Homo sapiens: one gene and its partners. The protein of the gene in region 1 purifies or fractionates together with the protein of each later gene. This does not show direct contact. Each region holds a gene or a part of one and is shown in the gene's direction. Other genes may lie near its edges. The genes, in order: MIA3, SIGLEC12 and CRTAP.

Evidence for each region.
Region 2: the proteins of MIA3 (region 1) and SIGLEC12 purify together in Homo sapiens (affinity purification with mass spectrometry; 3 studies listed by BioGRID and IntAct, with this or other methods). This does not show direct contact.
Region 3: the proteins of MIA3 (region 1) and CRTAP purify together in Homo sapiens (affinity purification with mass spectrometry; 3 studies listed by BioGRID and IntAct, with this or other methods). This does not show direct contact.

Annotation. Positions count from the first base shown.
Region 1 is NC_000001.11:222,663,007-222,666,758, forward strand, and holds part of MIA3 (transport and Golgi organization protein 1 homolog isoform 1 precursor), read left to right. Parts: intron 1-991; coding exon 992-1,142; intron 1,143-2,302; coding exon 2,303-2,613; 3' UTR 2,614-3,752.
Region 2 is NC_000019.10:51,495,049-51,498,800, reverse strand, and holds part of SIGLEC12 (sialic acid-binding Ig-like lectin 12 isoform a precursor), read left to right. Parts: intron 1-513; coding exon 514-783; intron 784-1,355; coding exon 1,356-1,452; intron 1,453-1,824; coding exon 1,825-1,921; intron 1,922-3,752. UniProt on the Homo sapiens protein: Putative adhesion molecule that mediates sialic-acid dependent binding to cells. The sialic acid recognition site may be masked by cis interactions with sialic acids on the same cell surface.
Region 3 is NC_000003.12:33,111,703-33,115,454, forward strand, and holds the start of CRTAP (cartilage-associated protein isoform 1 precursor), read left to right. Parts: upstream 1-2,311; 5' UTR 2,312-2,375; coding exon 2,376-2,846; intron 2,847-3,752. UniProt on the Homo sapiens protein: Necessary for efficient 3-hydroxylation of fibrillar collagen prolyl residues.

The DNA of each region.
Region 1 (3,752 bases):
GTAACTTGTATAGCTGTTATGGCTGGTAAGTCCTCTGATCATACCTCACTGTGATTCTCGACATTGAAATTAAAATAATTTTAATGATTGAGAGTTTCCAACCCACTTTCCCATAGGAAGTGATTAATCAGTATCTCATAGTAGACAGTATTACTAGTGAATGAAGATGAATAGAGCTGTGCCTGTATAATTTGTGTACATAACATTGTTTCTCTTGGAAAATACTTCCAAGTTCCAGCACAGGACTCCAGGAATACACATTTCTTGAGAAATGTTTTTATCCAAGAGCAGCTTGGATAAGACCCGAGACCCCTTTGAAGTAGGAGACTTCGAAGAGTGTAGAGACTACTTTGTTAGAAAGGAGAAGCAGAGGTGGAAAGAACGTGGCCTTGGAGTCAAACCTGGCATGGAATTCCAGCCAGCCTCTTACATGCTGTGTGACCATCAGCAAATCTAATACTCTCTGCGCCTGTGTTCCTGCATATTTAGAACAAGATGGTCCTATTACAGATTTAGAGATGTCAGAATTTGTGTTAATATATGTAGGGCCTACAGAAGGTACTCTGAATAATCGCTGTTACATGGTAGAGAATGGATTTTTCATTCCCTTTCATTCTCTGCATTCTTAATATGGAAATTACTCTGATAGGAGGGATGTGCAGAGGGAGTGACTGCCTTAGAAATAGATGTATGAATGGCGTAACTTCTATCATTAGTCAGGAATGACCTCCATTTATAACCTGTGCGTTCCCTTCCATTTGCAGATGTAAGCAATAATATGATACAGCAAGTGTTCACTCCTGTGGCATACTTTTAACCTTTCTAAGCTTGTCAGTGGGAACAAATGAGAGGGGTAGAGTTTTTTGCACTAATTCTGCTCTTTGGACAAGTGCCTGACATCTGCTTCATTGGGTTTTAGTTTTTACTGGTGTTGGTGCTTTTGTCTGTCATACCATAGTATTTCAAAACTTCAATTGTTTCTACTCTGCAGGTTAATATGGCTCCAAAAGGGCCCCCTCCTTTCCCAGGAGTCCCTCTCATGAGCACCCCCATGGGAGGCCCTGTACCACCACCCATTCGATATGGACCACCACCTCAGCTCTGCGGACCTTTTGGGCCTCGGCCACTTCCTCCACCCTTTGGTAAGATGATCTGAACAGTAGTAATTGACTTGTAAAGCACATTCATCTTCTCCATCTATCCCTTGCTAAAACAACTGCAATTGCGGGGCTTTGCAATGCAGCAGTGAAGCTGATTGAGTACACCGTAACTTTTCCCCAAGTTTCTTCAGACACAAAGGGTGCTACATAATCTCCTGTGATTAGATGGGCAATAGTTGTCTCTAATAGAACAAGGAAAGGGGCTATTTATAAAAAGCCAGAAATATTCATCACATTGAACATCTGTGGCTGTGTACTAGGCTCTGCAATGGATAGCAAGGTAGATAAAATACATCCCCTAACTAAGATGTCCTGTAGGTCACAAATATACACATTCTACAACATAAAGCTTCTAATCACCCATAATGGAAGCATAAGCAGTAGGTCACAGAATATTAAGGAAAGACAAAACCCTCAACCCTCACCTTGGGAATACAAAGAAGGGAGATATGAAAGAGAAGGTAGAATTTAACAGCTATCTAATGAATGCTGCTGAATTTAATTAGATGGAGCTGGAAAGCCTTTTCCAGCAGGGCAAGCACCTTAATTTTTATGGCATTTATTAGGTACATCTTGAGCTACTGCATAAATTTTTAACTGATACACAGTAGTTAATGGAATTTATCAAAATTTTTATTGCAATGAAGCCATATTTAGTCTGTCTTCTTGGTATGGTATATAGTACTTCCAAGTACAAATCTATCTCTCTTTTTCAGATAAAGATGGCAGGCCAGGCACAGTGGCTCACGCCTGTAATCCCAGCACTTTATGAATCCCAGCATTCATTAGACGAGGCTGAGGCAGGTGGATCCCTTGAGCCTAGGAGTTTGAGACCAGCCTGGGCAACATGGTGAAACCCCCATCTCTACAAAAAATCCAAAAATTAGCTGGGAGTGGTGGCGTGCACCTGTAGTCCCAGCTACTGGGGAGTCTGAGGTGGGAGGATTGATTGAGTCCGGGAGATTGAGGCTGCAGTGAGCCATGATCACTCATTACACTCCAGCCCATGTGACAGGCAAGACCCTGCCGCCAAAAAAAAAAAAAAAAAAAAAAAAGGATGACAGACTATATTAACATACCTGGCATTATCTTAATTTAAATACGTTCCTAGGAATTTACTGGAAATAATTTTTGTTTTCCAGGCCCTGGTATGCGTCCACCACTAGGCTTAAGAGAATTTGCACCAGGCGTTCCACCAGGAAGACGGGACCTGCCTCTCCACCCTCGGGGATTTTTACCTGGACACGCACCATTTAGACCTTTAGGTTCACTTGGCCCAAGAGAGTACTTTATTCCTGGTACCCGATTACCACCCCCAACCCATGGTCCCCAGGAATACCCACCACCACCTGCTGTAAGAGACTTACTGCCGTCAGGCTCTAGAGATGAGCCTCCACCTGCCTCTCAGAGCACTAGCCAGGACTGTTCACAGGCTTTAAAACAGAGCCCATAAAACTATGACCTCTGAGGTTTCATTGGAAAGAAAGTGTACTGTGCATTATCCATTACAGTAAAGGATTTCATTGGCTTCAAAATCCAAAAGTTTATTTTAAAAGGTTTGTTGTTAGAACTAAGCTGCCTTGGCAGTGTGCATTTTTGAGCCAAACAATTCAAAAATGTCATTTCTTCCCTAAATAAAAATCACCTTTTAAGCTAGAGCGTCCTTACAACTTTGAAATGTGCAATAAAGAATACCTGTGTTTTAGCTAATGTAGCATATGTAATTGCAAAATGATTTAGAATGTCATGAAAAATATGAACATTTCCTGTGGAAATGCTTTAAGAACATGTATTTCCATTATCCTATTTTTAGTGTACACCAGCTGAATACGGAGCAATGGTGTTTATAAGCGTTTTTTTAAACTATCTGGTCACAAAGACTGTTACGCTAAAAATGTTTACTAAAAGATCACTAAACTATCTCCCCTCTTGCTGAAGTTCTTTGTAGTAATAGCTCATAAAAATTTGTTTATTAATATTTCCCAAGTGTCTGTTGACTCATTGGACTGTTATGAGGCTTGTGCCATTTGGGGAACATGTAAACTCAGGCTCCCAGAACTGAAGATGGTGGCTGGTGGCACACTTCCGGCTGCTCCTCCGTCACCTGTGAACTCTACAAGTGACGTCTTTTTATTTCAAAGAAGTTTATTTCCCACTTGTATAGCATTCACATGCTTTCTTTACGATCCTCATTGTCTATTTGAGAATGGTTTTCTGAGAGTGAGTTTACATTAGTAGCAAGAGTTGTTTGACCTGATGTTCCATTGTTTTTACCATTCCTGTAGAAAAAGGGTGCACAACAGAAAAATGAAAATGATGTGTCATGGCCATAAAAGTATAGAAATCTTTAAAAATTTTAAAATGTACAGTCCCTTATCTATCTTTCCCATTCCTTGCCACTGATTTTTGAGGAATATAATAAAAAGATTGGAAGAGTATAATGCCATGAGAAAGAATGATTTAGGACTGTGAGGGTTATAACATGCCCTAGGTCAGCAACCAAGGGTTGAAATCAGTTCTGTTTTAGGGGGAAATGGGGGCGACAGATATTATTCCAAAATTAATATTAATTAATATTTAAACGTTGGTGTT
Region 2 (3,752 bases), on another chromosome or scaffold:
AGCAGAGTCTGTCCCCAGAATCGACCAGGGTCTGTCCAGGCTGTCCTGAGCCTTGGTTTGTGCACCTGGAAGATCTCAGAGGTGGTTTGATGTCAGTAGTGAGACTGTTTGCACCCTCCTCTAGGGCTGTGTGTCATTCCACTGTCTGAATAGTCTCTGATTTTGTGGCATCTTCTAATGGAAGATCATGGCACTAATTTTATCCTACAGCACAAACACTGCAATGAATATTGTTGTATCTACTCCCACAAGGAATATCTAAGTGTATGGAATAAAGTCCTAAAAGCAAAATATAGCAGTGTCATATGTCTTTCTGATTTTGAAAGATAGAGTGAAATTGTTCTAATTAAAGATGGACAAGTTTACATCCCCAACAGTGAGCAGTGAACGTGCATATGTCCCTACAATTCAGCATGTATCAGTGTCTGTTCCATTCACCACTCTCTTTCTGTATCCTTCCTCCCTGCCTCGATCACTTTGTCTCTCTCTGCCCTTCTGTCTCTTTCTCTACAGCATCCACAACCTTGAGGAATGGCTCGGCCCTTTCAGTCCTGGAGGGCCAGTCCCTGCACCTTGTCTGTGCTGTCGACAGCAATCCCCCTGCCAGGCTGAGCTGGACCTGGGGGAGCCTGACCCTGAGCCCCTCACAGTCCTCGAACCTTGGGGTGCTGGAGCTGCCTCGAGTGCATGTGAAGGATGAAGGGGAATTCACCTGCCGAGCTCAGAACCCTCTAGGCTCCCAGCACATTTCCCTGAGCCTCTCCCTGCAAAACGAGTACACAGGTGGGTAGGGGAGGGTCTGGAGGAGGAGAACACACATGTCCCACCCTCAGGGTCCAGCTGGGAGACCTGGAATTTCCCTGCAACCCACAGCATCACAGTCCTCTTGCTGCCAAGCAGTGAGTGCGGGGTGGGGAGAGGGGAGGAGTTAATCTTGGAGGGGAGGAGCTGGGGCCTGGACAAGTGTGTTTGGGGATACAAGGGCCTTGCTTTCCAGTGCCTGGACTAGTGTGAGGCAAGTGAGGCACTCACTTTGGGCACACAATTTAAGAACCAAAAATAAAACAACTCAGCAAGCAAGAGAAATAATCTTGCCATGTGATTATCTTTTCGAAAATTAAAAATTATTGTAAAATAATTCCATGGTGAAAACTAATCAAAATTTTAAATAAAGGCAGACTGCACCCAGCACTCTCATGCCTCAGTGACCTCAGGAGAAGTTCCCTTCCGTCCTTGTTCTTTCTGTCCGGGAAGCGGGACTGGGGTACCCAAGTCTGGGGCCCTACAGGCAGTGGGAGGAGAAGAGGCCCAGTTCTTGGAGGGTAAACCCCAAAACAACTCCAATCCATCCTCAGGCAAAATGAGGCCTATATCAGGAGTGACGCTAGGGGCATTCGGGGGAGCTGGAGCCACAGCCCTGGTCTTCCTGTACTTCTGCATCATCTTCGTTGTGTGAGCATTGACCCTGGGGAGGAAGAGCCTTGGGGGAGGGCAGGCTGGGAACAAAATCCCTGAAGCCAGACCTGGAAGGACCTGGATGGGTCAAGAGCTTGAAGCAAGGGCCAGAATGAGGTCATGGGTGCATGGTAAGAATTTCATGAGCGCCCCTGTTTGTGGAGCTCCATGTCTGTGGCAAACCTCAGACCCTACTGCCCAGGAAAAAAGAGCCTCTGTTTTCGACATTGGGGTCTCTGGAATGGGACCACTCCCCTCCCGCCTCAGTTACCCCTCCAGCTCCCCAATAGGAAATACAGGGCAGGGGTTGGTCTGCCCACTGCACCCCGATCTGACCACACTGAAAGGCTCTCTGGTCTCTTCACTCAGAGTGAGGTCCTGCAGGAAGAAATCGGCAAGGCCAGCAGTGGGCGTGGGGGATACAGGCATGGAGGACGCAAACGCTGTCAGGGGCTCAGCCTCTCAGGTGAGTGAGCATTGAATCACAGCCCTTCTCCCCTGCTTTCTCCCAGGCCAGGCATGGAAGGGGATTACTTCCTCACTGTCCTTCCTTTCTTCCCCTACAGCCGAAAAATCACGTCCTGTCCACTTTTTCCTCCTAAGAACAGCTTTCATTGCCCTCCCCATCCCATCCTGACCCCTCTCACTGCTGAAGCCTCTGGATCTCTGTCTGGGACCTCCTCACCTCCCTGCCTCTTGCCTCCCCTTCCCGGCCTGGAGGGACGTTCCACAGCCATCACTGTCTGCTTCCTCTGCACGTTGAATAGCTTTTGCTTCAAGTTCCATTTGGCTCAGCAGAGCACTGTCACTAATCTGGGTTTATTTAAATCTTTGTTCTCCAGGAATTTTTTGTTTTTATTTTTATTTATTTATTTATTTTGAGACAGAGTTTTGATCTTGTTGCCCAGGCTGAAGTGCGATGGTGCGATCTCAGCTCACCACAACCTCCACCTCCCGGGTTCAAGTAATTCTGCCTCAGTCTCTCGAGTAGCTGGGATTACATACACGAGCCACCATGCCCGGCTAATTTTGTATTTTTAGTAGAGACGGAGTTTCTCCATGTTGGTCAGGCTGGTCTCAAACTCCCAACCTCAGGTGATCGCCTGCCTCAGCTTCCCAAAGTGCTGGGATTATAGGCGTGAGCCACCGCGCCCAGGCTTTCCATGGACTTTTTATATTAATTTTGATTTTTTAAATATTGTGTTAAAATTGTATTCATCTTCATTGCTGAGATTTGGGGCACCCTTTTAATTTTGTGCTCTGGGTAAGGGCTTCCCTGGCTTTGCTCCAATCCCAGCCCCGCCTCCAGCCACTCCTGCCTCTGCTCCATGCTCCATCAACGCTGGACTCCAGTGTCATCACCAACAAGGTTATTTGTGTCTCTACGTCTTCACATTGGCTGTTCCTCCTCCTCAGATGCTTTTTTCTCCCCACTCCCTGATTCCTATTCATCCTTCATGCCCTGATATAAATATTACACTCATCATTTATTGATTGTATTGAATGTGACTGGAAGCCTGTGGAAGGTTTCGAGTAGCAGAGTAACATCCATCCCTTCATTCATTAATTCATTCAGGAAAAGTTATAGAGCATCTCCTAAGAGAAGATGCCAGCGACCCATCTGTGGAAAACATTTAAAAGTCTTGGGCTCATCGAAGTTTAATTCTATACAGAGGGATATGGCCAAACCAATCAACTAATCAAAACTAATAAAACAACAAATGAATAAAATATAAAGATAGATATATGCTTTAGGGAAAATGCAATGTAGAAGAAATAGGAAGTTCCAAGGAGAAGGCTTGTGGGTTTATTTTTGTTTATTCATCCAACCATTCATCCATCCATCCATCTGTCCGTCTGTCCGTCCGTCCATCCATCCAACCACCCACCCACCCGTCAGTCCATCCATCCATCCATCCATCCATCCATCCACCCACCCACCCACCCATCCATCCATCCATCCATCCATCCATCCATCCACCCACCCGTCTGTCCATCCATCCATCCATCCATCCATCCATCCATCCATCCACCCACCCGTCCGTCCGTCCATCCATCCATCCATCCATCCATCCATCCATCCACCCACCCACCCGTCCATCCATCCATCCATCCATCCATCCATCCACCCACCCACCCGTCCGTCCATCCATCCATCCATCCATCCATCCATCCACCCACCCACCCGTCCATCCATCCATCCACCCATCCATCCATCCAGCCATCTACGGTGGAAAATAACACATAACATAAAATTTACCACCTCAACTTTATTAAGTTTATGGTTGTGCTAGATC
Region 3 (3,752 bases), on another chromosome or scaffold:
ACTCCATCTCAAAACAAAACAAAAAACAAAAAAAAGACTTTATTTTTTAGAGTGGTTTTAGATTCATAGCGAAACTGAGCGGAAACTACAGAGTTCAAATATACTCCATGACCCTACAACATGCGCAAGCTCCCCCACTGTCAATGTCTTGCACTAGAATGGTACATTTGTTACAATCAATGAACCTACATCAACACATCGTTATCACCCAAAGTCCGGTTTACATTAGGGCTCACTCTTAGTGTTGTACATATTATGGATTTTAACAAATGTATAGCATATATCCACCATTATACTATCATATAGAATAGTTTCACTGCTCCAATAATCCTGTCCTCTACCCATTCATTCCTCCCTTTCCATAATTCTCAGCAACCACTGATCCTTTTACTGTCTCCATAGTTTTGCCTTTTCCAGAATGTCATTTGGCTGGAATCACACAGTATGTAGCCTTTTCAGTTTGGCTTCTTTCAACCAGTAATATGCATTTAAGACTTCTCCATGTCTTTTCATGGCTTGATAGCTCATTTCTTTTTGGCTTGGAATAAAATTCCATTGTGTGTATATACCACAGTTTATGTATCCACTTACCCACTGAAGGACATCTTGGTTGATTCCAAGTTATGGTAATTGTGAATAAAGTTGCTACAAACATCCATTCGCAGGTGTGTGCATAAGTTTTAACCCATTTGGGTAAATACCAAGAAGTGCAATTTCTGGATTGTATGAGTAGAGTATGCCTAGTTTTGTAAGAAACGGCCCAACTGTCTTCTAAACTGTATGTACCATTTTGCATTGCCACTATCAATGAATGAGAGTTCCTGTTGCTCCACATCCTTGTCAGCATGTGACGTTGTCAGTGTTTTGGATTTTGTAGTGGTATCTCATTGCTGTTTTGGCCTATATTTTTCAAAAATGACAACGGCATGACAAGAAAAGCCGAGGAACCAGTTTAAAGGATATGAAATAGACTAGATGTAACAGTGATCACGGATGGACTGCATCCTAAGAGAAAAAAGTGCCATGAAAGACATAATTGGAACAGCTGACATAACCGGAAATGGAACATGATTAAAGTCTTCTATCAGTATTAAATTTCCTAAATTTGATTGTCTGGTAGTTTCATTCTTAGGACATACATACTGAAAGACTAAGGGGTTGGGCACGGTGGCTCACGCCTGTAATCCCAGCACTTTGGGAGGCAGAGGCAGGTAGATCACCTAAGGTCAGGAGTTCAAGAACAGCCTGGCCAACATGGCAAAACCTCATCTCTAGTAAAAAATAGAAAAATTAGCCAGGTATGGTGGTGTGTGCCTATGATCCCAGCTACTCGGGAGGCTAAGGCAGGGAGAATTGCTTGAACCCGGGAGGCGGAGGTTGCAGTGAGCCGAGATCGCGCCACTGCACTCCAGCCTGGGTGACAGGGCGAGACTCCGTCTCAAAAAAAAAAAAAGGAAAAAAAAAAAGAAAAAAAAAAGACTAACGGACAGTGGGCCTGATACATGCAACCTATCTCAAATGAGTCAGAAAAAAATGTAAAGATAGAAATGTGGTATAACGTTAGCAACTTGTGAATCTTGATGAAGGGTATATAGGAACTTTTTGTACTGTTTTTGCAGCTTTCTTGTAAATTATTTCAAGATTTAAAAGTTTAAAGATTTTTTAAAAGTGCTGCCATTAACATTCCATCCATATTTTTTGATGCACACGCGCAAGCTTCTCCAGCATATTCCACCGAATGGTGTTGCAGATTCATAAGGTGTGCACATCTTCAACCTGACTAGCTATACAGTTTACAAAGTGCTGACATCCTTATTAATTTTATTTTTGCACTGTCTTTTTCTCTCACTAAAATTTAAGGTTGGGCAGTGCTATTAAAAGTGCGGCCCTTGGGCCCGCAGCATTAGCCTCATCAGGGTGCTGGTTAAACACACAAATCGTCAGACCTCCACCCCAGACTTTCTGAATCAGAAACTCTGGGGGCACAGCCCAGGAATCTTCGTTTTCACAAACCTCCAAACGAATATAAAGATCGTAGATTATATAGACCGTAGGGCCGATGTATATAATCTATTAGGGCCGCGTCGGCCTTGCAGGCGGGTCTCCAAGTGAATGAGCGGCAGAGTCCCATCATGCGCATCAGCCTGCGTGAACCAGTGCGCAGCGCGCCTTTCCCGGGCACCCTCTAGGTGCTGGCAGCTGGCGCCCAGATCCCCCGGCTGGGTGGGGAGGGGCGGCCGGACGGGGCGGGCCGGAGGCTGGCGTCCCCGCCCCGAAAGCACTGGGCCCGCCGCGTCGCACCGTCCTCTTTCCTTTCCTTCTCCCTCCCCTTTTCCCTTCCTTCGTCCCTTCCTTCCTTCCTTTCGCCGGGCGCGATGGAGCCGGGGCGCCGGGGGGCCGCGGCGCTGCTAGCGCTGCTGTGCGTGGCCTGCGCGCTGCGCGCCGGGCGCGCCCAATACGAACGCTACAGCTTCCGCAGCTTCCCACGGGACGAGCTGATGCCGCTCGAGTCGGCCTACCGGCACGCGCTGGACAAGTACAGCGGCGAGCACTGGGCCGAGAGCGTGGGCTACCTGGAGATCAGCCTGCGGCTGCACCGCTTGCTGCGCGACAGCGAGGCCTTCTGCCACCGCAACTGCAGCGCCGCGCCGCAGCCCGAGCCCGCCGCCGGCCTCGCCAGCTATCCCGAGCTGCGCCTCTTCGGGGGCCTGCTGCGCCGCGCGCACTGCCTCAAGCGCTGCAAGCAGGGCCTGCCAGCCTTCCGCCAGTCCCAGCCCAGCCGCGAGGTGCTGGCGGACTTCCAGCGCCGCGAGCCCTACAAGTTCCTGCAGTTCGCTTACTTCAAGGCAAGTCCGCCTCGCCCCGTCCCAGGCCCCGGCCCCGCCCCTGACCCAGCCTCCAGGCCCTAGCCCCGCCCCTGCGCCCGGGGCCGCGTTGCCCCTCCAGTTCTAGACCTGGCTCCCTCCCATCCAGCCCTGCCAAAGGTCTCCTCCAAGTCCTGTCTCCTTCTTCATCTCAACTAGAGATGAAAATGCCTTTCTTGAAGGGTAACTCTAAGGTAGAGAATACGTACACAGAACGCAGTACAGCGCCAGGCACCCAACAAAGTGCCTGATAAATGTTCTCTGTTATTTGAGGGCAGACGCCTCTTTTCTGTATATACCATTAAAGTCGCCTTTTTTCTCAAGTGAGCGGTGACTTGCGATAATAAAGCAGAAGACCTGAGGAGCCGACAAGTACCTTTTATTTTTATTTTTTGTTGAGACAGGGTCTCACAGTCGCCCAGGCTGGAGTGCAGAGGCGCTATCATGGCTCACTGCAGCCTTGACCTCCTCAGGCTCAGGTGATCCTCCACCTCAGCCTCCTGAGTAGCTGGGATTATAGGCGCGCGCCACCACACCTAGCTAATTTTTTGGTATTTTCTGTAGAGACAGAGTTTCGCCACGTTGCCCAGGCTGATCTCGAACTCCCGGACTCAAGTGATCCTCCCACCTCGCCTCCCAGAGTTCTGGGATTACAGTCGTGAGCCATTGCACCCAGCTGACTAGTTCCTTTTAAAGAGGATGAAATTGAGGCCAGGGAAGGGCAGGGACTCCTTGCAAGGACACATCCCTGCTTAAAGGGGAACTCGTGCACCGTGAGTCATCAGGATTGGCCCTCTCCGCTGTTTCTCTCTTTCATCTAGAATTTAACACAGTTCACTGCCTCCTTTTAATGGCTGCTTAAGTTCTCTCTGTGATTGCTGGCTAAAA